Linked DNA regions of Homo sapiens: regions 2 and 3 are each linked to region 1. The links come from fine-mapping of genetic effects on gene expression. A gene starts in region 1. Each other region holds a variant in brackets. All regions are shown on one strand. Distances are between the middles of the regions.

Region 1 (11,072 bases):
TTAGTAATCTTCACACAGAAGAGAAGTGCTTTTCAAATTACCAGTTGCTAACACAGCGTCATTAAATAAATTGAGTGGGTCACCATCATCAGTCTATCTTAAAAATAAAATAGAACGGAACAGAATAGAAACTACCAGAGTGTACCATACAAAGCAAGGGTATTATGTAGTGACATTTTATCATTTATATACAAGCATATTGGGTTGCAATGTAAAGATGCTTATCTTTCCAACGGGTCATAGCCAAAAAAACCTCTAAACACACTAAACTACAGGATAATCCAATCTTTCATTTGATCTACATGGTTCTCCAACCCAGTCCCTGCATAATAAGGCTCTAGACCTATCTCTTGCTACACCAAAGGGAGCTAGCTCAAGCAAACAAGCTTGTCATGCCAAACTCCTTTGCAGTTCCTCGTTTTAGTGGTGTCAATCACTGTTCTCTCTGCCTTGAATGCCCTCTTATTTGTCTAAGAGGCTCACTTGTACTCATCTTTCAGTATTTAACAACTATCACCTCCTCTACAAAGCCTTTTTATCCTTCCCTCAGCAGCTAATGCCCCCCCAACACACACTTTGTGTCTCCATAATGCCCTACATTATAGCTCCTACAAAATTTCATTGCACATTTTAATTTTAGGCTTGACTGTCTGCCCAACTTCCAAAGTATAAACTCACTAAGGGAAGGAGCACATTGTATTGGCCTTCCTATCAGCAGCACTGAGGTAAGTACACGCACTATAACAAAGGTTCAAAGTTGGTAAAATGAACAAATGACGAATTAAGGACTTGCATCTAAGTTGTCTATTGTCAGATATGATAGGGTGGTTATCTTTGCAATAAAACCCATTTATAGTGCTGGATCAAGATTTTCACATTTTTGCTACAACCCCTAGAGAGCAGAACCCTGCAGTTTGAGGCAGAAGGAGGTGTCAGCTTCCCATCTTTCAGCAAAGAGACTCAGTTTGGGCTGCAATGTAGCAGCACTCATTTCCATGCTTCTGGAAGTTATTTGGGGAAAGAGGGGAAGGAAGGACTCCAGAAGTTCCCATAGGCAGGTGAGATAAATCAGAAACAGCATTAACAGATTCCATTAGCAGGGAGAGCCCCATTTTATGTATAAGTAGCTCTTAATAAGGGAAGGGAGGGAAAGAATTCTTTACCATTGCTGATGGCACTAGGTTGCCAAAATGAGCTAAGTAAAAACAAAGGGTTTCATGAAATAAGTGGTTGAAGTTACTTGATTTCTGTTGCCTACTGTGATAGTTCTGAAATAGCTACTGACTCACTGCTGTCATTATGAGATACTATTTGGAGGTGGGGGTGGGGGTCATACCTAACAGGGGCTCCTCACTGAGGCTTCAAAACTTTTCAGAGACTTCATTTTACATACATGAATGCCTTAATTTTTAGGGGATCTGATACACCTATTTTACAAACCCATACTTTAGTTGCCTTCACTGCAATTAACAGTTCATGCAACATCCAAGATACTTTGACAGACTTTGCCAACTGTCAAGTTTCAGCTGTTCTTCTCCATTTCCAAAAAGTTCATAAACTACTATTAGGGGAGCCATAATTTTTTTCTGCCCAATCACTGATTTTATTAAAAATAATTCCTTTGCTTAGACTGCCCCTAGACTTGCAATAATTATCTACAATTAAGACGAAGATAAATCCTTATTATAACCTAACATTAGTTTAAAAAAAGAAGGTTGTAATATGTGAAACACTTTACCCACAGTATTAAATTTTAGATATCTATTACAGTAAGGTAATTATGGATTGCCAAGGTAAAGCTTTAAAAGCCATTTAAAGCCCTGTTTCCTTTTGCTTGAAATAGGTCCAGGCAGCTATGCTAATTCCACAAACATTTATTAGGCATAAATACGCATAAAGTGTGGAAACGTCAGCAAATGCCTTTGCTGTATGCTCTTCTACTTCCATCTACCCTTCCTCTCTCTACTCAAGTCACTATCAATGAGAAAGGGTCATAGCCCCAAATACAGGCTTTCCAAAAAAAAAAAAATAGCACCACAAAATGCTCGCTCCTTTTTCTCCTCAGTCCATATATAGAACTTTATTAACTAAAGGGCAGATACATTCATTTATAAACAAATTAATTATGCTAAGTGTCTAAATGCATGTTATGTGTGGTGCTAACTTTCCCACTTTAAACAACAGCCCCCTTAGTATTAAATTCATCCTGTCTCTTCAGATTCTAGGCGCTTCAGGAGCCGCGCCTTAAGGTGCAGACATGGCCAAGTCCAAGAACCACACCACACACAACCAGTCCCAAAAATGGCACAGAAATGGTATCAAGAAACCCGAAGCACAAAGATACGAATCTCTTAAGGGGGTGGACCCCAAGTTCCTGAGGAACATGCAGTTTGCCAAGAAACACAACAAGAAGGGCCTAAAGAAGATGCAGGCTAACAGTGCCAAGGCCATGAGTGCACATGCCAAGGCTATCAAGGCCCTCCTAAAGCCCAAGGAGGTTAAGCCCAAGATCCCAAAGGGTGTCAGCCGCAAGCTCAACTTGCCTACACTGTCCACCCCAAGCTTGGGAAGCATGCTCGTGCCCGCATTGCCAAGGGGCTCAGGGTGTGCTGGCCAAAGGCCAAGGACAAGGATCAAACCAAGGCCCAGGCTGCAGCTCCAGCTTCAGTTCCAGCTCAGGCTCCCAAAGGTGCCCAGGCCCCTACAGAGGCTTCAGAGTAGATATCTCTATCTGCCAACGTGAGGACAGGACTGGTGCGACCCCCCGCCAGGCTGCCATCTGCATGGGGCTGTGGGGCTGGGGTCCTCCTGTGCTATTTGTACAAAGAAACCTCAGGCAGGGAAAAAAAAATTCATCCTAAGCTTCCCTTGGTAAAATGACAGGCATTCATGCAGCTTAAAGGTTCTGGAAAACTGATTTTCTTCCATGATGCTACTACTCCACAGTCTAGACAAAATGCAGCCATCAACATGAAAAACTGCTGCTTGATTTTTTTTCCTCCAACATGTTTTAAACAGAGCTGCAGATGCTCAAGGGAAGCCATATTTCTAAGGTTTTGAACAGTAGTATTTTTCAGTATTTTTCTCATTTAAAATTGGTGCAATTCATCCAAAACATTTTTCAAATGCCATTATTTTTCAGCGTTAAGCGCTTAAACTGCTTAGAGTGAAAAAGGTCTCCATCAGAAAGATCGACTTGCAGAAACCAACTAGTGATCATTAAAATGAGGAGGAGAATAAAAAGAAAGCAATTCGTTTTTTACAGTTTGGAGAAATCTTTAAGTCATCTCTAAATCGTTCATTTTACAGGTAAGAAATAGAGTCCACAGAGGTCAAGTAATTTGCCTCAGATCACTAAGCTACTAATAGCAGCGCTAGAAATAGAATGAGGTATTTTAATTACTCTTAGCGGTACCCCCAAATCATGCAAGTTATATATATTCTCATCACTTGTCATTCAAGTTTTTAAAACCATTATAACTTTGTCATTAATTTCTGAGGAACGTCTCCTACAACATGCTCTAAATTTTCAAAGTTATGCATGTTAAACTTCAAATTCTAACTCCAAAAGGAAGGTACTATTCAAGAACTTTCCTCAGAAAGTTTCAAGCGTGTGTACACACCTAAACCATCACGATGAATTGCAGAGTCCATTCTTTAAAACATGCCCCTCAACTACACTTCAGATGTGTTTGTTCAACCACACACACACAAAAAGAGAAAATTCTGGAAGTTCTTCTGCCAAAAAGCAGTGACAACCTGTCAATGAAATCAGATTGCTCCATTAATATATTATGGGTTTCCAGCTTAAATTAGGAAGTGTCACTAGCATTTCATCAACCCACAGTGTGAAGAGTTAATAAAAGACTGGAAAATGCACTCTCAGTTGGCTCTGGGTCCGAAGGAAGGTGTAGATCTGATACTGTTAACTCAAACTGAAGGGCTGAGCTTAAAAGCGAAAAACAAAAGGAGTGAACAAGTTCCTTAAACAAAAAGCTTTTTCCTACGAAATGCACCCGTACCGTGGTGACCGCATCAGTAAGACTGAATTTCAGATTTTCGTTTTAACGCCCCAGTAAATCAATTCTATACATTTTAGCTTTGAATATTCAAGGACAAGACAGAGGGCACGGTGAGGGCAACAATTTACTCTGGATCACTTTCAAGGACTGTTGTCTAACCACTCATTAAAATCGTTCCTTTGTGCAACTGATTATCTAAAAGTACTGAGAGAATGCAGTACTTCTCTTTGAAAGATAACCGTCAGCAAAAGCTAAAATAATGTGATTTTGATTACAAACTGATGCAGCAGTCTGACCAGTAAAGTGTAGAATGCGTTGTCTTTGTAAACATTACTCACAAATCCATATTCAAGTTACAAACGATATATGTGTTTTTAAATTATGACCTCTGGTACCGCTCTACAAAAATGCAAAAATAACCTAAAAGGTTAGCATGCCTATTTCTTTAAAGTATGACCAGCTTAGCAAGGTGGCAAGTTTGTTTGAAAACACAAAACACAATCACCACCACCGCTCAATAATACACATACATAAACAGATTCGAAGCTGTGTTAAGCACAAAAATCCTTACCCCATTTTGCCCAATGAAAACTTGCTCTGAAGTTTCAGCTCTTATGCTACGGAATAACTTCCAAAGGAATTTCTCCGTCTGCTATTTCGCAGTTGCTTTTCCACCCCCACCCCCAGATCCTTGTCCGGAGGTATTTCAAGGATGCTGCCAATTCAATTAGTTCTCTTAGGTAAAATGATTTCTCTCTTGTAAATACCAAAACGTTCAAACAGAGGCGGCATTTGCTTATTCGAGTTAAAATGCTTTGCGGAGGAGACAGCGATCAACTCTATTCCACAAAATGAGTCTACAAGTAGGGAAATGCAGAATCCGGCTTCACCGAGTCCTATAAAAAATGAGTTCGCTGGTCATTTCACTCATGTCCTCCTCGACACTCAGGGAGAGCCAGGTAACTCGGCCTTTTCGGAGCTAAGGCTGCGGGTTCAAATTTCTCCACCACACCAGGTCTCCGGGGGTGGAGCGAGCAACCAAACGCGACGTGCACGTGAATAAAAATCCCAAAAGCAGTAATGCCACGGCTTCCCTGCGCTCACATTAGGAAAAAAACTACACAGGAAAATCTCCTCGAAGTGCAAACCCGGCAGCTCGCAACCTGCACGGCACTCCACATTGGAATCTGTCTTTTTAAATGTTTCTCCTCCTAAGACTCGGAGCAGAGAAGAGGTGGGGAGGACGAAGAGAAGGCTAGGCAGGATCGATTCATTCTCCCGAAGAGAATAAACGGAGCCATTTCCAGGCTGGCAGCAGGCTGGGGGCGCAGCGCACGCCGGAGAGCTGGAGGAGGGGACCCGATCCCACCTCCCTCAGCCCCTTCCCGCCCCCCGCCGCCGAGCACAATGGAGCCCGGCTGGTGCCCGGCCCTTCATTCGCGGCTGCCCCCTCTTCCCTCCTCTCTTCAGAGCACAGCGGGTCTGAGGCTCCCGTCGGCGGAGAATGAATGAATCACAGAGCCAAGCCCCACGCTTCCACTGGCACCCTGCCCCCAGCTCCAGGGCGGGCGAAAGGGGCCGAAGGGTCGACGGGCGCCTGCCCGAGCCAAGGCGGGAGGCTAAGCCCGCGTTGGGGCCAGGAGAGCTGGGCTCGAAGCCGAAGCGCAGCCGCCGCTCCAGCGCCCCCACCCCTACTCCTCGTCTCTCACGCTCCGCGCCGCCGCCACGCGCCGCCTCACATTCCCCGGGCCCCGCCGCCGCCTCTTCACACTTCCATCAGCGCCCGCCTCCGGCTACCGCCGGGCAGAGCAGCGCCAGCCCCGGCGGCCTGAAGCCTGCCGCTGCCTCCGCCTCCGCCGGCCGGCCGGCTGGCAGAGAAGAGGGTGCTGCTTTCCCGGTCAGCGCCGCCGGCGTGAAGCTAGCGCGGCGGCAGAGTGGGCTGCGGGGGGCGGGAAGGGGGCGGAGAGAACGGGGAGCGAGGGCGGTCCCTCCCTCTGCTCGCGGGAAGGGACGGGAGGCGGTGGCCGCCGCGGAGCCGCGGCCGGGGGCTGGGGCGCGGACTGGTCCCGGGAGCCCGACGGGCCTTGCGAGCAGCGGGCCGCGGGAGAAAGCAGCAGCCGCAAGGCGGCGGAGAGGCTGATGGTGGGGGGCCGAGCGGCCCTCGTGGGGAGCTGGGCCGGCGGCAGGCCCTCAGTCCGTTCGTCCTTCTTTTCCCCCCTCCCCTAGAGGCTGGCGGCTGGCTGGCCGTGCGCTCTGCTCCTCCTCTGGCTCTTGGCCCCGCTCCCGACCGCCACAGCCTCCTCCGCGCCCCACACCAGGTGCTCGCGCTGTGTCTCCATCCTCCCCGCAGGAGGACCTTTAAATAGCAACGTCAGCGCGCTTCTCTCCGCACACACGTCACCCGCAGCTCACGTCACCGAGGTGCGGGGGATGATGTCACGCGGCCGGAAGTACTGCTAAATTAGGGAAGGAGCAGGGGGAGGAGGACTCGGCGAGCTCCTGTGTGCCCACCTGCTCTCACTTCTCCTTAAAGGCCAAAGCACAGGAGACAGCCCGAGAGGAGCTCGAACAAGGAAGCGGCGGGAGGAGGAGATTTCCTTGCAACAAATGTGCCAAACCTGAGTGAATCATTCGTAGCAAAAGTGCAGTGTCAAGCGGGTAATAGCCTATCTCCCACTCCCACCGCTATTGCAGCAGCACCCCCGGGCTTCTCTTGTCCTGACTAGCAGGGAAATGTGGGAGGGAGAGCCTGATCACACTGCTGGTAGATGTGCTTCCAACAGGACTTCGGAAAAATCACCTAAATTTTCAATTATAGAGTGCCATTCTGGACATAGTCGACTTTTAAACTTTTTGTTAGTGGTTACCTGAAACACGAAAGAATAAAGAGCAGAGCAATAAGCAAACGAAATAATGTTATAAAGGATAGTAATTTTATTTGCAAAATAGCAGTTTTGACATAGGAAAATGAGTCAATCTTAGTTCACGTATAGCAAATGCCAGTGTGTCCTCTCAGTTTCTCTTCATCAAGAATATGAGTTCCATGACACTTGGCTCCAGCCAGTAAAACAAGAAAGAGAAAAAGTATATGGGTTTCAGTCTGTGGAATTTAAATTAAAATTTAAAAATTAAAAATAAGAAAGAGCACCAAATCCTTTTTCATTAACACAAGCATATTTTCGTCTTCTTTAGTTTTGACCACATAATATGTAATTACAATATCTCTTAAGTGTGTTTTGCATTTTCTGTATGGCAAGGGTGAGTAGCTGTCTATAGGTTTACTAGCTATGTGTGTCTATAAACACCATATTATGAGTGCTTTTTACATTGTAAATTACTACAGAGTTTTTAAATTATTTTAAAGTAATTAGGTTAAAACAATTTTTTAATTAGGTAAATCATATAGTGAACTTTGATTTTATTTTACTTAACTTGATAAGCATGGCCAAGAAATAGAATTGCTGCGTATTGCCAAAGGCCAATACTGTTTCAAGTTAGTCTACAAATTTAGTGACCCTGTTTTCCAGACCAAAATCTAGACACACCATTTGACGTTAGGAAAAAATATTTGAATCTGAAGTGACCTGGAAAATCCAAAACATAGGATTACCAACCTATGAAGTGATTATTAGGAAAGTTATAGATCAATATCAACGCAGTTTAAATAAAAGAAGCTAAAACTCGTTAGAATGTATACCACGTGTGACTTTTAGAAACTGTTTGTAATGTTAAACTACTCACATGGTTCCTAATTAAGGAACATTGGTTTTGCAGCTTTCTGTATTTACATTTTCTTGCTCAAGTTAGGAGTCCAAGATTAAAGAACACCACCAACAACAAAAAAGACCCATTTGTAACTGATTCAAACACTCTGGTCATCTTCACATTATAAAATTATGATCTTGCTTGAAGTTTGAAATATTAAGTCTTTTTTTTGAGACTGAGTCTCGCTCTGTTGCCCAGGCTGGAGTGCAGTGGCGCGATCTCGGCTCACTGCAACCTCTGCCTCCCAGGTTCAAGCAATTCACGTGCCTCGGCCTCCTAAGTAGTTGGGATTGTAGGCGCGCGCCGCCACGCCTGGCTAATGTTTGTATTTTTAATAGAGATGGGTTTTCGCCGTGTTGGCCAGGCTGGTCTCGAACTCCTGGCCTCAGGTGATCCACCCGCCTCGGCCTCCCAGTGTGCTGGGATTACAGGCATTACCCACAGCGCTCACCCTAGTTTTTTACGTTGTTTTGTTTTGTTTTGTTTTTTGAGGCGGAGTCTCGCTCTGCTGTCTAGGCTGGAGTGCAGTGGCACGATATTGGCTCACTGCACCCTCCACCTCCCAGGTTCAAGTGATTCTCCTGTTTCAGTCTCCTGAGTAGCTGGGACTACAGGCACTTGCCACCACGCCCGGCTAATTTTTGTATTTTTAATAGAGACGGAGTTTCACCATGTTGGCCAGGCTGGTCTCAAACTCCTGACCTCAAGTGATCCGCCCACCTCGGCCTCCCAAAGTGTTGGAATTACAGACTTGAGACACTGCGCCCGACCGCGTCGTTTTTTTTTGTTTTGCTTTTTGTTTGTTTGTTTTAAGGTTATAACAAAAGGTTAATGAAAGGCAAATCCCTGCTTGCCAATTTGTCTAATGTATATTATTATCATATTAATCGAAACTTGTACCAATTTGTATTTCAGACAAATGGAGCTTCTTATATCTAAAATGTTAAAACAATAAAACTATCATTCTTCCAATAATGTCATCCCTTGGCAAATTAAAATACAAATTATGTTATTACACTACTAAAATTTCTCTACAAACAATTTCCTACCTAACTAAATAACTTCTCTCTTTCCTGCTCTTTCTCTCCATGTTAATTAAAGCTCTCACTTTACCATTTTCAAACACTTTATTCTACCCTTTCATCACAACTTCCTCTCATTTACAGTCTTTTTTCCCCTCATCTTTACCCAACTGTCAAAACAGCTTTTCAGCTGCTTTCCTGCCTTTAGAGTGCTGACCCTTTGTTAGTTTCTACTTTTCACAACCACATCGTCTCTTCTCAGCTGCTCTTTTATCAACTGAAAATTGAGAGCAGCTTTTTTTCTACATAAATTGAATGGTGCACTGTGATATAATTACTCAAAGTTTATGCAATTATTTAACTTCAGCCTCAATCTAGAAAATTCTACCTATAATTTATTACTTATAGGTATGAATTTCTTGCCAGCTTATATGGGATCAGGATCAGTAAGTACATGTGTCCATGTAGTCAAAAGAATATGTAAAACTTTGAAACATTTTATGTAATATGGCATGTCTTCTCAGAAAAAAATAGCCTTTTCTCCCTGCTTGAAACAATTCCAATACAGTTTTAAGAGGAGTCAGAGAGGCATTCCATGGCTTTCCATCTGTAAGTAAATAAATATCTTTTCTCCTAAGATGAGCTGATGTAACCCAAATTTTAGTTGTGAATTCCCAACCCTGATTTTTTTGTATGTTTTTTAAAATAGTAAACTTCCTAGAAAGTAATATATTTTCTTTTACCGGAAGAGGAAGAAAGTACTTTAGTAGAGTTTCAGATTTTAACAGTTCCTGTTTCCCACTGTGCTCTGAAAATTTGTAGGGCGGTTTATGAATACCCTCTGATTTTAGAATCTGTGGGCGAAGGCATCTGTTTTAGTTACAGAGTTTATTTCCATGCCCTTAATAGGAGATGGCAATCTTCAATGGGGTGTTCATACACTGGTCATGAGATATGTCTTTTTCAATGAAAAGACATCTAAGAGATAGAAAACCTTTGCAGGAAAGAGAGTAAAAGCCAGATTTTATTTTTAATTGCCTTACATTAGATAATAACAACTTGCTTTTAATTACCAAAATACCACTATCAATTCAAATAAAGTCAGATTGAAAAATAAGTTAAAAGATATCTCTCTATATAAAATAAATATCATAATTCCTAGTTTATAATACATAGTCATGAAGAAACTAACCAGCAAAGAGTAAACGTAATAAGAATGAAAGAGTTGCAGGGAAACAGAATTTATCCAGTGACTCTCCAAAATCATCCCACTTCCTCCATTATATAGCAGATACCGGGTACCATTGAGTTGTGTATGGCCTGTAATAAGACCATCTTTTATTGTCAGTAATGTTCTGAACAGAAGCAAAGTAGTTAAACAGTCTGAAGGGTGGGAACACAAGTGTTTGGCATCTTCAAGGCAAGGCTTGAGGACAATTTATTACAGAGGTTTGAAAGTGGTAGAGGAAAGGAAGCTAAAGAATTAGCCTTAGGAAAACTATGGTAGATAGCCATGGGAAATGATCTCAGAACTACCTCCTGCTCTGATTTTTACTGTAAATTCATTTTCCAAATATGGTCAGAGGGATACAAATGTAATCCTAGATAGTGAAAGAGGGTACTAGAAAGTTTTCAGTTAGCTGCTGTTGAGGGCCCACATAGAACAAAATTAGAGGAAATGGTAGTACAACTGTCTATATAACATTTTTAAAATATTCAGAAAAGATGGGGATAAGGTACCTTTGAAAAAATTGTCTGGCTTAACCTGGGTTGGTTGGTTGATTGTTTTAAGCAGGAGTTAGAGAAAACAGGCTAGAAAAATACGCAGATCTGCAGAGAACTACAGTAAAGAATGTGGAGTAAAGGTTGTGCTGTACCTGTGCAGTTACTTAGAATGGAATGCTGTGGAAGCTGATTGCCATGGTAACCAATAGTCTTTTTCCTGAATGGGGGAACAGAACAACCATGAGGAAAATGTTTTAAATGAACTACCTTATTTTGTGACTGTTATGGTGCCAACTAAAACAAAAACAACCCACAAGGTATTTAGGACAATCATTCTTATGGAAGGAAATGGCCTTCTTTTCAGAGAGACAAGGCTGAGGCAGAAATTCTGGAGCATTTCAAAGAGAGATGGGGCTTTAAGATGGCAATTGCAAACTCTCTGAAGCAGAACATAATGGATAGATATTATATTTATGGCTAAAGCAGGCAGAAGCAAGACCTAGAACTCGTGTTAAAGTTTCTCCCAAGCAAAAGAATC
Region 2 (9,713 bases), 37 kb after region 1:
GGACAACAGAGTGAGACCCTGTCTCAAATAAATAAATAAATAAATAGATAATCAAATCTGATTATCTAATCTTTGTCACAGTTTTCTATCCTCTAATTTCTTAAGATATGCCAGCTTCATTTCCTTTCACTGGCCCTGTTGCCTGTGACAGACACTGGTGCTGCTTAGCAGAGAGAGGAAGCCATTCCACTGTCCCATATGGGCCCTAACACCAGTCCCTTCTTTGCTCTTTCACTCCTCAGTGAAGACCTTCTTGGATCATTTCCAAATCTCTTGGTCCTTATTACTAAAATGTCGATGTGAATGGATTGTCCATCAGAAATCTGGCCTCTGAGAGCATTCCTCAAGTTATGCTGACAGTCAACATAGCCATGAATTCATATTTGCACACAGCTTCTTAGGAAAAGAATTCTCAGGCAAAATAACTGCAGTGTGTTCTGGTTTGTAAACCAAACATGTTTGATTTGTCATATACCATTCAAATTTTAAAACCTTTAAGTTTTAGTGAGTTGAGTGCTCTTATTTTACAGATGAGGAAATGAAAATCCTGAGAAGCTAAGAAATATCCTAAAATCACACAACTTATTAATGCTTGTACGGAATTAGGAACTAGATCTTCTTATCATATCTCTTCTAGTGAACAAACAATAAGGCCAAAGTTAGTATGATGTGACAGTGGAGCACTTTGCTAGGAATGAAGACAGCCAGGTTTAATGCCCAATTTTGCTACTAAATGTGACATTAGATTAAACTTTTACTCTCTCTGGACCAATTTCTTCAACTATAACCTGATGGATTTGATCTAGAAGTGCCCAGTAAGATAGTCACTAGCCACACATGTAACTATGGAGCACTTACAGTGAAACTAGTCAAAATTAACATGTTCTGTAAGTGTAAAATACCCACTGGATTTCAAAGACTTAGTACCACACCAAGAATGTAAAATATCTCACTACAAAACAATTTTTATATTAATTGCATGTTGAAATGATAATGTTTGGATATTTTGGATTAAATAAAACATATTACTAAAATAATTTTTACCAGTTTTTTTTCTTTTTTAATGTGGCTACAAGCAAATTTAAAATTAACTGGATGGCTTGTATTATCTTTCTACTGGATATGTTACTGTAGGAGACTTCTCAGGTTTCTTTTAGATCAGAGGTCAGCAAACTTTTTCAGGAAAGGGCTGGAGAGTAAATATTTTTGCCTTTTGTGGGCCACACGGTCTCTGTTGCAACTGTTCGTCTCTGGCCTTGTAGCACTAAAGCAACCACAGAATACATAAACAAATGTGTGTAGCTGTATTTCAATAAAACTCTAGATACCAAAACAAGCGATGGGCCAGATGTGGTCTACAAGCTAACTGTAGTTTGCCATGTACGTTCCTTGGGTCTATTCACATTTTCCTCCATTCAACGTTTACTGAAAAGCTGTTATCTATTTAAAGACATTTAGAATAAAGAGCCAGCCTCTGCCTTGAGCCTAGGGAGGAGCCAGGAACATAAACACACAAGCCAGCAGGATACAATGTGAACAACACTGTGATCAAGGAGATTGGAGAAGGCTTCTTAGGGGAGTAACAGCTGAGTTAGGATTCTGCAGAATGAATATGCAGTTTTCCAGATTCAGGAAAGGTTTTATCTAGGGAAACATAATAGCACACATAAGGTGACGTGTGTTTATGGCAGCCGGGGAGTACTGTGGTGGTGATAGTGGGAAGTGAGATGGCAAAGAGGAAAAGGGCCAGATGATGATTAAATGCCTTACCTGCCGCAGTGAGAGCATACACACATGCTCTGATAGCACTTCTTAGACGGGAATTCTGAGGGTCAAAGCATGCCATCCTGGGGTTGGCCCATGGCAGCACCAGCCATGAAGAGCAGCCAGCCTGGCAGGTGTGGAGAGGCCCCAGAGAACCACAGAAGCAGCCGCAGAAGTGATGAGTGAGCAATCTCCAGGTAACTAGATCTGTTTTGCAACAGGGGCTGAAAACCTAACCTAATGCTGGCCACCAATAGGGCTAAACAGTGTTAGCAGGTACTGTCAGCAGGCCTCAGGCAGAAGCAGACAAGAAGGGTAAGAAGTAAAGGAGAGGGAGGAAAGGAGTTGAAAGAATAAGAGAATGAGGTGAAAGCTGAAGTCCCCACAGAGGTAACAAAGTACTGATTGATTTCCTGAGGACACCCTCAGTGGTGCTGGGTGGGAGGCTGCTGAGGGCCTGTAGGCTAAGTTCGGGGATTGTTGGCCTAAACTGTGCATTGGAATCTTTTATGTAATTGGAATTTTTAAAAAATCATAATGTGGAGTATAATGGCATATCTTTAAAATTATAAATATATATGAGGCATATGTGAACGAATGAAAGACAAAAGAGAGAAAGAAGGTGTACAGGAAGGGAAAAAGAAAGAAGAAAATGAAAACATGATTGATTGCAAAATAAGTAAATAAATGAATAAGTACTCATGCCTGGGTCCCACCCCTGGAAATTCTGGTTTAACTGGAATCAGGGCCCAGACATGAGTAATTTTAAAAGATGATTCCAGTGCACAGCCAGGGTTAAGCACCACTGATTTGGTTTAATAGAAGCTGAAGTGATGTCCCATATCTACTTGGCTGGTAAGTAGGTACTCAGTAGAGGTTTTTTCAAGGTGAGAGGAAAAAAAAAAAGGAAGGTACACAAAAAAAGGCAGGAAAGCAACAGAAATAGAGAACCTAAACCCATTCTCATATGCTTGAAAGCAATTTAAACTACAGTTATAGTAGGTTAGTGTTGTTATCTGTTGTATGTGAAATGGACAACATGAAATACAAGAATTTTCTGCATTAACTTGACATGACTAAAATCAGACAGCTTCACCAGAGTTTTTTGGTCTCAGACAATCTAGAGTACTCTCTTTCTCTGGAATTATCAACTCTTAGGTACATGTCTTCTGATGCCCAAAATTGCCAGTCAATTCAGAAAGTAGAATGTTGCTAAGTTGATAAATTGAAGCAGCTGCAGACAACCAGCAAAACCTAAGCTCTGGTTTAGTTTATTTATTTATGTATTATTTATTTATTTATTTTCTGGCAGAAGATCCAACACAAAGATACTTAATAAGAGCATTTAAGTTCAAGAGCAATTAAAAATAGTAAGTTACCTTTTTATACTAGGAGGATTATAAATGGACATTTCTCTGCTTTTGAAATCAAGAATAGAAAATACACAACTATCTCAAAAGACTCAGCCTATCTGATCATCTTATTTTGTACTGCAATTCCAACTTCCTATCTGCCTTTTCTCATTTTTTTTCTCTATAGCACTTCATCTTTTTGCATACTGCATACTTGTTAGTTATTTTGTTATGTCTTCTCCATCTTCACTAGAATGTAAGCTCCATGAGATCAAGATTCTTATCTGTTGTACTCAGGTATACGCTTAGTGCCTATCACAAGTGGGGACTCAATAAATGTTTGTTGAAAAATTGAACAAATTGTTTTAAAACTGTCATTAGTTGGCCGGGCATGGTGGCTCATGCCTGTAATCCCAGCACTTTGGGAGGCCGAGGTGGGTGGTTCACCTGAGGTC[G/A]GGAGTTCGAGACCAGTCTGACCAACATGGAGAAACCCCCGTCTCTACTAAAAATACAAAATTAGCCGGGCGTGGTGGCACATGCCTGTAATCCCAGCTACTAGGGAGGCTGAGGCAGGAGAATCGCTTGAACCGAGGAGGCAGAGGTTGCGGTGAGCCAAGATCGTGCCATTGCACTGCAGCCTGGGCAACGAGAGCAAAACTCCGTCTCAAAAAAAAAAAAAAAAAAACTCTTGTTAGTTTAACGTGTTACAGAAATATTTTAGAACAAGAGGGTAATGTCTAATATCACTTCAAGATTGTGTCACACTAAGAAGCAAGTTTTTTTAAAAGGTGTTATAATGTTATTAAAGTTGTTTGAAATGAGTCAATAATATATACACAGCAAGTGTAGGTATACATTCAATTACTAGTGTGGAAGGAATCAGATGAAGTTAGTCAACAGTTGTAGAATTGCCTTTTGACTGAAAAAGGATCATCCTAGGATTTTTATTCAAGTCTAGATCATGCTAAAACATTGTCTCCTCTGTCCCTGTTCTTGCTGCCATACACTTTTGCTATAAGATCAAAGAGATGAGGTCAGAAGGAACAGGGAGAGTTAGAGAACGTAATGAATGCTGGCTTTCTACAATTTGTAAGCAAACCGTTATAGATCCACTTGGAGTTTAAAAGCAGAGTAGGCCGAGTGCTGTGGCTCACACCCATAATCCCAGCACTTTGGGAAGCTGAGGCGGGTGGATTGCTTAAGGCCAGGAGTTCAAAACCAGCCTGACCAACATGGCAAAACCCTGTCTCTACTGAAAATACAAAAATTATCCAGGCATGGTAGTTCACGCCTGTAATCCCAGCTACTCGGGAGGCTGAGGCACGAGAATCATTTGAACCTGGGAGGCAGAGGTTACAGTGAGCTGAGATTGCACCACTGCACTCCAGCCTGAGCAACAGAGAGAGACTGTCTCAAAAAAAAAATAAATAAAAATTTAAAAAGGCAGAGTGGTCAGGTGCAGTGGCTTATGCCTGTATCCTCCTGCACTTGGGGAGGCCGAGGTGGGTGGATCACTGGAGGCCAGGAGTTTGAGATCAGCCTTGGCAACATGGTGAAACCCCATTTCTACAGAAAAAGAAAAATTTACCAGGTATGGTGGGACACACTTGTGGTCCCAGCTACTTGGGAGGCTGAGGCAGGAGTATTGCTTGAGCCCAGAAGATCGAGGCTATAGTGAGCTGCGATTGTTCCAACACACCCCAGCCTGGGCGACAAAGCAAGACCATGTCTCAAAGATTAAAAAAATTAGGCCGGGTGCAGTGGCTCATGCCTGTAATCCCAGCACTTTGGGAGACCGAGGCAGGAGGTCAGGAGACCTGAGGTCAGGAGTTTGAGACCAGCTTGGGCAACATGGTGAAACCATGTCTTTACTAAAATTACAAAAATTAGCCAGGCGTGGTGGTAGGCGCCTGTAGTCTTAGCTACTTGGGAGGCTGAGGCAGGAGAATAGCTTGAACTCTGGAGGTGGAAGCAGTGAGCCAAGATCTCGCCACTGCACTCTAGCTTGGGCAACAGAATGAGACTCTATCTTTAAAAATAAATAAATAGGCCGGGCAGGGTAGCTCACACCTGTAATCCCAGCACTTTGGGAGGCCGAGGTGGGTGGATCACCTGAGGTCAGGAGCTGGGGACGAGCTTGACCAACATGGAGAAACCCCGTCTCTACTGAAAATATAAAACTTAGCCGGGCATGGTGGCACATGCCTGTAATCCCAGTTACTCAGGAGGCTGAGACAGGAGAATTGCTTGAACCCGGGAGGTGGAGGTTGCCGTGAGCCGAAATTGGGCCATTGCACTCCATCCTGGGCAACAAGAGTGAAACTCCATCTCAAAATAAATAAATAAATAAATAAAATAAAAAATAAATAACGAGGCCGGGCGGGGTGGCTCACGCCTGTAATCCCAGCACTTTGGGAGGCTGAGGCCGGCAGCAAACAAGGTCAGGAGTTCGAGACCAGCCTCGCCAATATGGTGAAACGCCATCTCTACTAAAAATACAAAAATTAGCCAGGCATGGTGGCAGGCACCTGTACTCCCAGCTATTCGGGAGGCTGAGGGAGGAGAATCGCTTGAACCCGGGAGGCGGACGTTGCAGTGAGCCGAGATCGCACCACTGTACTCCAGCCTGGGTGAAAGAGCAAGACTTCATCTCAAATAAATAAATGAATACTTACATAAAATTAAAATAAAAATAAAAGCAGAGTGAAAACTACCAACAAGAGTTTATTTATGATAAATTGGTCCAAAGTCCCATAGTCCTGGAGCCAGGACCCTTGTAGACTTTTGATTTGAAGAGATTTATGGCAAATTTAATCTGTGTAGGCCTGAGTAACCCTGGGCTAGTTGAAATAGAGGATTATTGAGGAGAGTATTTGATTATAGTTAAGTCTAATGAGAAAAGTTCTTGACTGTAGAAGGGTGTTAGATTTTCTTGATACTGTCATACATTGTGACCATTTTCTAATAAAAAATACGTGAGCACCATCATTATGAATTTCACATAATGCATTTATGCATTTCAGTAACTTATGGAGTTGTAAGTGAAAGGGTATATTTTTGGTGGGAGCTAGTCCCGTAAGAAGCCTTGCCATTTGGGCCTATGGCTGAGTCATTACTTCTCACCTGTTGGCAGCTAACTGAATTTTGGGCATACTACCAAATGGTAATTTAGTCTTGGGGTACTTATCTATCATTGCAAACCAGTGAAGTGGTGGCACCAGTACTGAAACATTGATTTCAATTCTATATCATAGTTAGTTGAGGGAGACAAACAGACTTGGGGGCTGAGGGAAGAGAAGGGAGAAAAAATGGAGAGGTAGAGGAGAAAAAGATGAACAAAGGAATAAAGACAGACATATCAAGAGACAGTGAAAATACTATGCCACGTTGACTTGTGCACAGACATATAGACCTGCACCTGTGCACACAGTGATCCTAGAAACGCAGATTCACACAGAAAGATAGACTTTAATGGAGTTTAGGGTTTGTTATTAAAGGCTTCTAAAGTCATTTCTTTTTCTCCCTAACTACAAGATATAAATGGGAATAACAACATCTGGTACTTGCAAAGTGAGCCAAGACAATTAAATTAAAAGTAGAAGGTTAACCATCCTGCCTTGGAATGTGCTCTTTAGGCATTGAAAAACATTTCAAATTTTAGATTTTTCTTAAGGCAAAGTCTTTCAAATTACTTTTCAAGATTACACCTACTTAGAAGATGTAACAATGTGTTCGGATATCATGACGTCCTTGCATGAATCAAGGAAGGTATGATTTAAATAATGTTTTTAAAGCCATATATGAGACATATAGGAAGCAAGGAGAATAAATTAAGGGAATTCTGAATAATATAGAGAAAATTCAAACTAAAATTGTGCCAAAGTCCCTCCATGCCTGCCCACACCTCCTTTTGTGGAATCTGCCCTGCCCACCTTTGCTGACCAAGTGGCCATGTTTTATGCCACATGACCCTGCCTCTCCACTTCCACCCTGGGTGATGATGTCAAAAGATAGCGTCTGGCCTACGTACTGCCAGTTCAGTGACTTGATTGTGGTGGATAGAATGTAAACTCCATGAGGGCAGACATGTTTATCTGTCTTTTTCACTGTCTTTACCCCAGCATCGAGATGAGTCCTTGGCACATATTAGGTGTTCCGTAAATATTTGATAAATGAATGAATGACTGTGGCTTGGCCCAAATAGATGAACTGGGTCAATTAGAGTTCTCCCTTATGGATCTGAAATTTGAGAAAAAGGGAGGACATAGTGAGGCAGAGTGAAAGGACGTCAGGGACTTGAATGATAGCCAAAATTCACAGGCAAGTTACCAGGAAATTGAAAACAGATGGAGCTCAGCGAAAAACACTAGAGCACGTGCATAGAAAGATGCCACAACATGACAAGAGATGAAAAAGCTGCTCTGTACCAGCCCCATTTCCCATGAGGCTTCCTGTGCTTGGATCACCACAGGATCACTGCAGTGTCTTAAAAATACCCACAGCCGCAGCCCTTCCTTCCCTTGAGTTAGCTTAAGTGATTATCTGTTCCTTTTAATTACAAAAGTCCTGACTTCAGCAATAATGTATTTGATACAGTAATGATGCCCCAAGATAAGGTTATTATAACTACTTATACGAATATCAAAAGAAAGATGCTAAACTGGTATACATAAATGATTAAATCCTGTGAAAATAGAAAAATAAGATAGATAAAATGAAACCAGCCCAGGGGTTAAGAATACTAAAAAATATTTACTCATGCAACAAAGAGATATTGTTAAGTGTTTGTTAAGTGTTTACTAGGTGCGGGCATTGTGCTGGAGCTGGAGATGGCAACATAAAAAGACATGATCAACCCTCTTTAGGTATCAAAGGTCTAACAGGGACACAGCAAGTACAATGAAGAACCATAGAGAAGATGCAAACAGAGTGGGAAAGGAGCATGTGAAAAGGGGACATTTTGAACTGAGATGTGAGGAGTAAGTAGGATTTTGCTAGCAATGAATGAAAAGATTCTGCAGAAAAATTGTACTAGAGATGCTGAGTGGGAGGAGGACAGTCTAGGCGGGAGGAGTAAGTGTGCAAATGCAGAAAGGCAGGAAAAAAACAATCTTGGAATTATGAGTCTGTGAAGGGCAAAAAAGAGCCCGCAGAAAATGAAGCTTGCTGAACAGGTAGGCAGGGCCAAATGGTGAAAAATTTGAGATTTTATTCTGTAGGTGACTGGGAGCCATAATGAATACCAAGCACTGGGGAGGCATGGTTACATTTGCCCATGAGAAATTTCACCCTGATGTGAGGGTAGTTTGATTCGAGCCTAGCAATAGCTGGGGGAAGGGAGTGAGGGGGTGATGTGGTGGTGAATGACAATGGTTCCTATAGAATCTACGGCAGCAGAGGTGGGTTACAGAGAAGAGCTGGATATGAGAGTTTTGGAGTAAAATCATCGAGACTTAATAATTGATAAAGTCAAGATTGATAGGTTTGTATAGACAAAAAGGAACAAAGATATGAAAAACCGTCATTAACATTTGGAAATTACTGTTCCTAAAGAAAAGTTACACACTTTCACTTAATCATCACTGTGGGAGAGGAAGAGCTGCTGCTATTATCAAAAGCTCCCATTTTATAGAAAAGAACGTGTCTTAGAGAGCTGAATTGGCTTGCCCAAGCTCACTCCTACTTAAGAGGCAGAGCCAGAGTTAAAGTTTAGTTTCTCTAACTTGAAGCCCACTCTTTCTTTTTCTTTTGTTTCTTTCTTTTTTTTTTTTTTTTTTGAGACAGAGTCTTGCTCTTTTTACCAGGCTGGAGTGTGCAGTGGTATGATCATGGATCACTGCAGCCTGGATCTCCTGGGCTCCAGTGATCCTCCCACCTCAGCCTCCCAGGTAGCTGGGACTACAGGTACATGCCACCACATTCAGCTAATTTTGTTGTTGCTGTTGAGACAGGGTCTCATTCTGTTGCCCAGGCTGGTCTTGAACTCCTGGGCCCAAGCAAATCTCCTGGCTTGGCCTCCCAAACTGCTGGGATTACAGGCGAGCGCCACCATTCCTGGCTGAAGCCCATTGTTTTTCACTCATTTGGGCTGTCTCTAGGAAAATCAGATGAACAGACAAGAGACCACAGAAAAAGATTTCTTAGGGTAGCTCTACTATTGAAAAGGAAACAAAAGGCCCGGCATGGTGGCTCACTCCTGTAATCCCAGCACCTTGGGAGGCTGAGGCAGGTGGATCACCTGAGGTCGGGAGTTTGAGACCAGCCTGACCAACGTGGAGAAACCCCGTCTCTACTAAAAATACAAAAATTAGCCGGGCATGGTGGCGCATGCCTGCAATCCCAGCTACTCGGGAGGCTGAGAAGGAGAATCGCTTGAACCCGGGAGGCGGAGGTTGCAGTGAGCCAAGCTCGCACCATTGCACTCCAGCCTGGGCAACAAGAATGAAAATGAAACTCCATCTCAAAAAAAAAAAAAAAGGAAACAACAACCATAAAAAAGAAAATAAAAAGGTGAAAACGTCTGTCAAAGTATTTTTATGTAATTAAACTTATTTTATATTTATTCACTAAAACGCTGAAGGAACTAAAACATTCAGG
Region 3 (8,723 bases), 26 kb after region 1:
TTTTAAGCTTTTCTTTTCTTTTGTTTTCTTTTTGAGACAAGGTCTCACTCTTTTGCCCAGGCTGGAGTGCCTGCATTTTAAAATTATCTGAATTGGAATTTTTTAATTTATCAGACTTATGAAATATATTATTGTGAACTAGAAAGTATTAGTGAAAGTTGGGCATGGCAGCTCACGCCTACAATCCCAGCCCTTTGGGAAGCCATGGCAGGAGGATAGCTTGAGGCCAGGAGTTTGAGACCAGCCTGGGCAACATAGCAAGACTCCTGTCTCTACAAAAAAAAAAAAAGTATGAGAGAAATTTCAACCAATTATGGGATATTTATGCTCGAAATACCCTGAGTCACTGAAATGTGTCCAAAGGTACGTGCTATATAAATATCATGAGGGCCAATAGGTCATTCTTGTGTACAGAAGGAGAATTTGTTTGTCAAACAAGAAGAGCAGGGCATTTGCCATTGATCAATCTGGAACTATCTACCATTCCCATACACTACATGAGTAAGAAACTGATCAACTGATGACTCTTATTTTCAATGGGAGTATTTTGATAGGCCCAGAGATATGTATTAAAACCCAAGCTTGTTAGTCAGTGTATCTCCCCATTTTGGGTCAGAGAGAAGGCCCTAGGGTTGTGAGAATGGGCAAGGCATATGCTACACTCTGGTGTCTAATATGATTATTGCAACCCAATAAACATGTTACTGTTTTAAAAGCTTGGTTTCAAGAGTACAAATTTGATATAAGTTGGGAATGGAAAGACATCAGAATGTGCAGAAAGGTGTTGAGTTATCTCTGCCTGTGTACCGACAACAGTGGGGCTCTCTGTCATAGGAAGGAAGGCTTTATGTGGTGTGACTCGGGGGTTTGCTCTCAAAACTTGATTAGAATTCAGGTAGGTCAGACAGAAGGATTTGAAGGACAGCAACAATATAAGGAAAGGCAGAGAGGTGAGAATGAGCTAGGTATTACACACAGGACAGTCAAGAGACCATACAGTGAAGACTTGACAGGCAAGAACAACTTGAGCAATACAAAGTAATGTTGGACAGATGGGATAAGGGCAGATCAACTTCCCATAATTCTACTGATGGAAAAAAACAGAGCATCAGAATTTCAAAGTACTAGCAATGTGATTTCTCTGTAAGTAATATAACTCATTTTAAAATATTAATGTAGCCACTCTGTAGGATGATGGTTAGTTAGAAATTGCTATCATATTCAAGCAGAGCTTGAAGAGGACTGGATCTCTGCTATGGTTTTAAAATGTGTCGTCTCCAAAACTCATGTTGAAACTTAATCCCCAGTGTGGCAGTGTTGAGAGGCCTTTAAGAGGTGATTGTGTCCTGAGGGCTCTGCTCTCATGAATGGATTAATGGGTTATCCAGGGTGTGGGACAGGTGGCTTTATAAGAAGAGGAAAAGAGACCTGAGTTAGCACACTCAAACTCCTCACCATGCGATGCTCTGTGCCTCCTTGGGACTCTGCAGAGAGTCCCTACCAATAAGAAGGCTCTCACCAGATGTGGCCCCTCAACTTTGGACTGCTTAGCTTCCGTAACTGTAAGAAACAAATTCTTTTTCTTTATAAATTACTCAGTTTCAGATATTCTCTTGTAAACAACAGAAAATGGACTTATACAGTCTCCTAAGATTTCAGATCTGGGAACTGATTTTGAGTTCCTGTACATGTTACAGTAGATGGAGGAAGAGAGGAAATTCAGAAGTGCATTCTCAGCTAAACTGAGGGTATAGATAGATTTACTAATGAGACAAAGTAAATTTGTAGCTATGGAAACAATAGTGTCATTCAAGATTGCTTCCTTTCTCAAAGTGGGAGGCAACAGGACAATGATTTTCTCTTCCTGTATAGGAGCTGCTTCCTACCAGGAGTGTGGGAAATGAGAGAAGCATCACCATTTATTATGTGCCCAATCATTATAGGCACTGTTTAAAGGAAGGATCATAGGGATACAGAAATAATAATGGGTGAGGATAGGAATTTCCAAGGTCTTAGCAGGAACTGTCCTGTTGGTGCTACATTTCTGTGGACTTTTCCCCCCCTCAACCTTTACCCTCTGTTCTTCCAATTCTAAACAAGAAAAAGTGATACTGAAACTCACCAACCTTTAACAACTACTGCATAAATGTCTTTTAAATACTTGGTTTTGGAGTAGCAATTACTGGAGCACTTATCTGAAAAATGCCTGCTGAGCCTAATCTCTAGATATCAGAGAATTAAATAAAATGCTTGAAAACTGAATAGTAATTTAGCAACATCAGTTATTGAAGTGATGTAGAAGTGTTTTTTTCACATTAAGGTACCAATATGATACCACAATCCCATCATGACAGTGGACTTGACCCTTTGAGTTAGCAGAACAAAGGACTTTATGTAACTATTTTAGGCAGTAAAAATTTCCAACTCAGCACCATTTTTTTCCTATAAACCTGTCCTGCATACATCACATTGATGTGAGAGTCAGATGAGATAATTATCTGAAGGTGCTTTGTAAACTGAAGAGCTATATAATGGTCAAGGAATCATTATTCCTATCATTCAGTGAGTCATAAAAGAACATGTTGGAAGGTCATTTGTAGGACAATATTCTTAAATTCTAGAAAACTGCAGTTATCTTCGAGAACTAAAGATATTGAACAAAATTTTTGGAATATTTATTACACGTTTGGTAGGCTGGTAAGATGAACTGCTAACAAGAATTAAATACATTAAACAGTATGAGTTCATTACTTTCCTTTTTAAAGCTTTAAAATACTGTGTTCCACATATATACAGGTATATTTAAAAGGATATTCACGGCAGCATTGGTATGACAAAACAACACAAAGAAACAAATAAAACCAATCTGGAAACAACTCAAATGTCCATCATTATGGATTTATTATATATATATATATATATATATGTATGTGTATATATATATATATATATGTATGTGTGTATATATATATATATGTATGTATATATATACATGAATACTATGTGACTAATGAAAAGAGTGAAGTAGAATTTATAAGTACTTACATGGAAAGAGAGCCAAGAGATACAAGATGATAAACACGATGTGCAAAACAATATTTAATGTATGATGAGTATGTTTCTAAGAGCTATATAATGGTCAAGAAATTTAAAAAGTCTATTTAGGAATATGTGCTAATAATAAGGAAAACATTATTGACGAATATCTGCTATTTCTCTATTAACAACGGCTCGCCACATCACAAAAGTTTAACTTTCTACAATATTTCTGTAATGTTTTAACTTTTTATAATGAGCTTACGTTACTTTCATGAGCATAAAAAGTCAAGATTACAAACGATGAAAGACCCATGCTTCAAACAAAACCTAAACACATTGAAGAGCAAATATGATTGACTTGCAAAACTCTGGAAAGAAATATTGAAGATTTGAATTGTTAAGGCCAAATAAAGTTTAGTTCGACTTGCTGAGGTTGATGTGGAATTGTAAGATTTGAAAAAATGCCTCCAAATATTGATCCCATTGCTCTGAAGCACCAGGCAATAAGTTCAAAATACTGTTCAGAGTCTCCATGGGGCTGAAACAACTCTTCCTGCTAACATAAGCTGAAACAAAGATGAGTTTTATACCTTTGTAAGATGTTTAGCTTTCGTTCATGACCAACAAGTCAAAGGTCCACATGTTTGTTGATGTACTCTAAGCCCCAGAGAGAAATCAACTAAAATGGCTAGAATGTAGGTTGAACAAGGTCAACTTGGACTTGCACGAAAGGTAGTACTGGTAATGACCAAGGCTAGCTTTGTTATTTCCTGTCAGAAGCAAAGCATGAAGAGTGTGGATTGTCTGCAAAGGGAGATATTAAAAGATTCAGCCATTTCAAAGACAAATGATTGCCTTCCCTTGTTTTCCTGTGTTCGTCCATTTACATACTTGATAAAAATGCCTGATTGATGACTGAATATATATATATATATATATATAGAGAGAGAGAGAGAGAGAGGGAGAAAGAGAGAGGAACTATGAGTTTATTAAAATTGTAATGCTATAGACTGTCTAGCAACATGCAAAACGAATCTGATGCAGAAACATAAAATAATGAAATTTTATTTTGTTAGGATGGTGAGATTACGGGTGACTTTAAAAATTCCCTATTATTGGCTGGGTGCAGTGGCTCAAGCCTGAAATCCCAGCACTTTGGGAGGCCAAGGCAGGTGGATCACTTGAGTTCAGGAGTTTGAGAACAGCCTGGCCAACATGGTGAAACCCCGTCTCTACTAAAAATACAAAATTTATCACGCCTGTAATCCCAGCACTTTGGGAGGCCGAGGCGGGTGGATCACAGGTCAGGAGATCGAGACCATCCTGGCTAACATGGTGAAACTCCGTCTCCACTAAAAATACAAAAAAAAAAAAAAAAAAAAAAAAAAAAAAAAAATTAGCTGGGCATGGTGGCGGGCGCCTATAATCCCAGCTATTTGGAAGGCTGAGGCAGGAGAATGGTGTGAACCCGGGAGGCAGAGCTTGCAGTGAGCCGAGTTTGCGCCACTGCACTCCAGCCTGGGCTACAGAATGAGACTCCATCTCAAAAAAACAAAAAATACAAAATTTAGCCAGGCATGGTGATGTGCGCCTGTAATCCCAGCTACTCGGGAGGCTGAGGCAGGAGAATTGCTTGAACCTGGGAGGCGGAGGCTGCAGTGAGCCGATATAGTACCACTGCACTCCAGCCTGGGCGACAGAGTGAGACTCCATCTCAAAAAATAAAATAAGACCATCTCAAAAAATAAAACAAGACCGGGCGCAGTGGCTCATGCCTATTATCCCAGCACTTTGGGAGGCTGTGGCAGGTGGATCACCTGAGATTGGGAGTTCAAGACCAGCCTGACCAAAATGGAGAAAGCCCATCTCTACTAAAAATACAAAATTAGCCAGGTGTGGTGGCACATGCCTGTAATCCCAGCTACTTGAGAGGCTGAGGCAGGAGAATCGCTTGAACCCGGGAGGTGGAGGTTGCGGTGAGCCAAGATCACACCATTGCACTCCAGCTTGGACAACAAGCGTGAAACTTGGTCTCAAAATAAATAATAAAAAATAAAAATAAAAATAAATAAAATAAAATTTCCCATTATTATTGTTTTAAAATAGAGCAAACCACACATTTAAAAACAACACAAACTTTTTTTAGACAAGATGACTCCATGAAAATAATAGCTTCTTTTTACATCTCAAAGATTGTACATGAAGAAAAAAATTCTCCAATACTTAATTTGCAAAACCAGTTTGCTTCTAGATTAATTCTTAGAAATCTTTACAATTAGTTGTAAACGTAGCATAAGAAAAAAAATTGTAGGCTAGGTGTGGTAGCTCACACCTGTAATCCTAGCACTTTGGGAGGCC[A/G]AGGCTAGTGGATCACTTGAGCTCAGAAGTTCGAGACCAGCCTGGGCAACATGGTGAAACCCTGTCTCTACTAAATATACAAAAAATTAGCCAGGTGTGGTGGCACATGCATGTAGCCCCAGGTACTTGATAGGCTGAGGCTGGAGAATTACTTGAAACCGGGTGGTAGACGTTGTAGTAAGCCGAGATTGTGCCACTGTACTCCAGGCTGGGTGATAGAGCAAGACCCTGTTTCAAAAAAATAAAAAAAAAAAAAAAGAAAGAAAGAAATAAAGAAAAGGAAAAAAACATTGTTCTTTCGACATCCTTTGACTAATTGCTTCTGTTTGTTCAACAGACTCTGCAATATCCCATTTAAGGCAAACATTCAAAATATAACGAGCCTTTGAGAATTCGGACGTTAGATTCCATAAGTCCACTACATCCCTAGTGGCGTTATCTTACAGGAATATAGAGTAAATATGGATAGATTAAATAATATCCCCTTCTGGAAAAATAAAGATTAAAATAAAAAAGAAAGCTCATATCCTCTATTAAATATTTACTACAAGTTCCTAAAAGCCCCCTAGGGAATCTGAGTTCCAAGATTCATAATGCTTATATTAAAAACATTGTGAACACCAACATGTTTATAATTTAAATGTATGAAACTGTATTATCTTAGAATGGCAAAATAAATTATAAATCTTGATCCAAAAAATTTTTAATTGAAAAGAGCTCTTATATTAAACTCAGGAAGCCAGTTAGAAGTAGCATAAGCTTAAGTTCTGTTTTAATTCAGGCCATGTAAATATGCTTAGTAGCAGAAATTACATAAATTTGGGATTTAAAAAAATTCATTGTTAATATCAGCTGCTAGGTGAATTACAGCATGTTAGAACCATATTGGTTTTCAACTAATTTTAATCAAAGATTATGCAATGTATTACTTTACTTTCATTCTTATAAAAAGCAGTGCTTAAGTGGTGAAATATAAGCTGTTACATAAATGTATTTGTTTCTATGTGTATAATTGAGCTGCAGCGCTGTGCTGCTTGTTCCACTAAAATCTGATGTGTATTTGCTCATTAATTTTTATTTTTATTTTTTGAGATGGAGTATTCCTCTGTTGCCCGGGCTGGAATGCAGTGGTGAGATCATGGCTCAATACAACCTCCTCTTTCTGGGCTCAAGGAATCCTCCTGCCTCAGCCTCCTGAGTAGCTGGGACTACAGGTGCATGCCACCATACCTGGCTACTTTTTGTGTTTTTTGTAGAGAAGGGGTTTCGCTATGTTGCCCAGGCTGGTCTCGAGTTTCTGGGCTCAAGAGATATGCCTGTATCAGCCTCCCAAAGTGCTGGGTTGTAGGCATGAGCCACTGCGTCTGCTCCACATAACTCTTTAAAACTTAGACTCAATAAGATTTAAGAATAAATGGTAAATAAATGTAATTTTAGAATAAATGGTAGAATTTTTTTGTTTGTTTTGTTTTTTGAGACACAGTCTCGCTCCGTCACCCAGGCTGGAGCGCAGTGGCGCAATCTTGGCTCACTGCAACCTCCGCCTCCCAGGTTCAAGTGATTCTCGTGCCTCAGCCTCTTGAGTAGCTGGGATTACAGGCGCGCACCACTACGCCTGGGTAATTTTTGTATTTTAGTAGAGACGGGGTTTCACGATGTTGGTCAGGCTGGTCTCCAACTCCTGACCTCGTGATCTGCCCGCCTCAGCCGCCCAAAGTGCTGGGATTACAGGCGTGAGCCACTGCGCCCAGCTAAATGGTAGAGTTATTAATGTTAGAAGAATGGATTGTAAATATTTCATGTTGTAAAGGCTACAGTTCTTTAGTATGAATACAGCTAAGTTATTCCATAGTTTTGCACGCACAGTATTTCAAATAAGAAAAATTTTATGAGTAGCCATCAGTGATCATATACTTCCAGAAATTTCTCTCATGTTAAATCTGCATGATCAGCTGAATAAAAACACTTCAAATAAAAGAAATCCATTTAGTAACCCCATCACTTTGGGAGGCTGAGGCAGTCAGATCACCTGCGGTCAGGAGTTTGAGACCAGCCTGGCCAACATGGTGAAACCCCGTCTCTACCAAATATACAAAATTAGCCGGGCATGGTGGTGGGCACCTGTAATCTCAGCTACTCTGGAGGCTGAGGCAGGAGAATTGCTTGAACCCGGGAGGTGGAGGTTGCAATGAGCCGAGATCACGCCACTGACACTCCAGCCTGGGCAACAGAGTGAGATGCCATCTCAAAAAAAAAAAAAAGAAAAAAAAAAAGAAATCCATTTAAATATAAGGATTTTTCCTCAAATACAGTTCAATTAAAATTTGTTGACTTTATTACACAAATGCACACATGAATAAAACATAGATCCTATCTTCAGGCTTTCCTGTCAAGCATAGGTCATAAATGAGATACACAAATAATTACAATGCAGTGTGATTAGTATAATTATAGATATGTATATAAGCTGTAACAGTAGCAGAAGTAATTAACTCTACAACTGAAGGCCTCACATGAGAGGTGATGTGTATACACTGGTTTTGAGGGATGACTGTGAATTTCACATGAAGATGAGAGGAAGCAGGAGTGCACCTTCTCATCTTTCTCATTCTTTTTTTTTTTTTTTTTTTGAGACAGGGTTTTGGTCTGTCACCCAGGCTGGAGCGCAGTGGCGTGATCTCGGTTCAACGCAACCTCCACCTCCTGGGTTCAAGCAATTCTCCAGCCTCAGCCTACCAAGTAGCTGGGACCACAGCCACGTGCCACCACACCCGGCTAATTTTGTATTTTCTGTAGAGATGAAGTTTTGCCACGTTGCCCAGGCTGGTCTCAAACTCTTGAGCTCAAAGCAATCCATTAGTCTTGGCCTCCCAAAGTGCTAGGATTATACACATGAGTTACTGTGCCCAGCCTGTTTCTCATTCTTTATTCACAAAATAAAATGTATTGTAATCCTATAATCATTTTATCAAAGAACTAACAACTTAGAAGTCCTGAAAAAGTACAAATTGACTTAGTATCAAAGTCAAGTATTATACATAATTTTATTAAATAAAATAGTCATTAAATTCTACATACTTGCAGTCCCATCAAAAACATTGGCCAAAAATTAAAAAGGCACTTCTTAACTTGTAGATGGTGGCACAGGGAAATAAAGGCACAAACTGGAGCCAGACTGCCTAGGCTCGATCTCAGGCTCTGCTTCTTACTTGCTGTGTAGTCTTGGACAAGTTATTTAACATCATTGTCCTTCAGTTTCCTTATCTGTTAAATGAGAATGACGATAATAGCAGTATGGGCTTCATAGGGTTGTTAAGATTAAATGA

Alleles and levels. Alleles are on the strand shown, and positions count from the first base shown. SD is a standard deviation of normalised expression in the study named. Not every link is listed here.
For the expression in liver of the gene that starts at base 5,958 in region 1, allele A in region 2 goes with a lower level than allele G (moderate effect, 0.62 SD a copy in GTEx).

What was found. PIP is the estimated chance that this variant, and not a neighbour inherited with it, causes the effect.
Region 2: its variant is the best candidate, but not a certain one, in a credible set for the expression of HOMER1 in liver (GTEx, PIP 0.75).
Region 3: its variant is the best candidate, but not a certain one, in a credible set for the expression of HOMER1 in thyroid (GTEx, PIP 0.76).

What each region holds. Positions count from the first base shown.
Region 1 is chr5:79,508,177-79,519,248 of GRCh38, forward strand. HOMER1 (homer scaffold protein 1) reads right to left here and starts at 5,958. Exons shown (of 9, transcript NM_004272.5): 1 at 4,594-5,958. The coding sequence starts at 4,598. It also overlaps the pseudogene RPL29P15. RefSeq lists a silencer at 5,531-6,240 and enhancers at 6,235-6,782, 6,491-6,680.
Region 2 is chr5:79,545,684-79,555,396 of GRCh38, forward strand. LOC124901013 (a long non-coding RNA gene) reads right to left here and starts at 1,952. Exons shown (of 2, transcript XR_007058839.1): 1 at 1,771-1,952. LOC105379047 (a long non-coding RNA gene) reads left to right here and starts at 1,890. Exons shown (of 3, transcript XR_948497.3): 1 at 1,890-1,961. The variant G/A (reference allele first, on the strand shown) is at 3,572.
Region 3 is chr5:79,535,364-79,544,086 of GRCh38, forward strand. LOC124901013 (a long non-coding RNA gene) reads right to left here. Exons shown (of 2, transcript XR_007058839.1): 2 at 8,423-8,723. Among named protein-coding and RNA genes, the nearest start is that of HOMER1, 26 kb to the left of the region's middle. The variant A/G (reference allele first, on the strand shown) is at 5,398.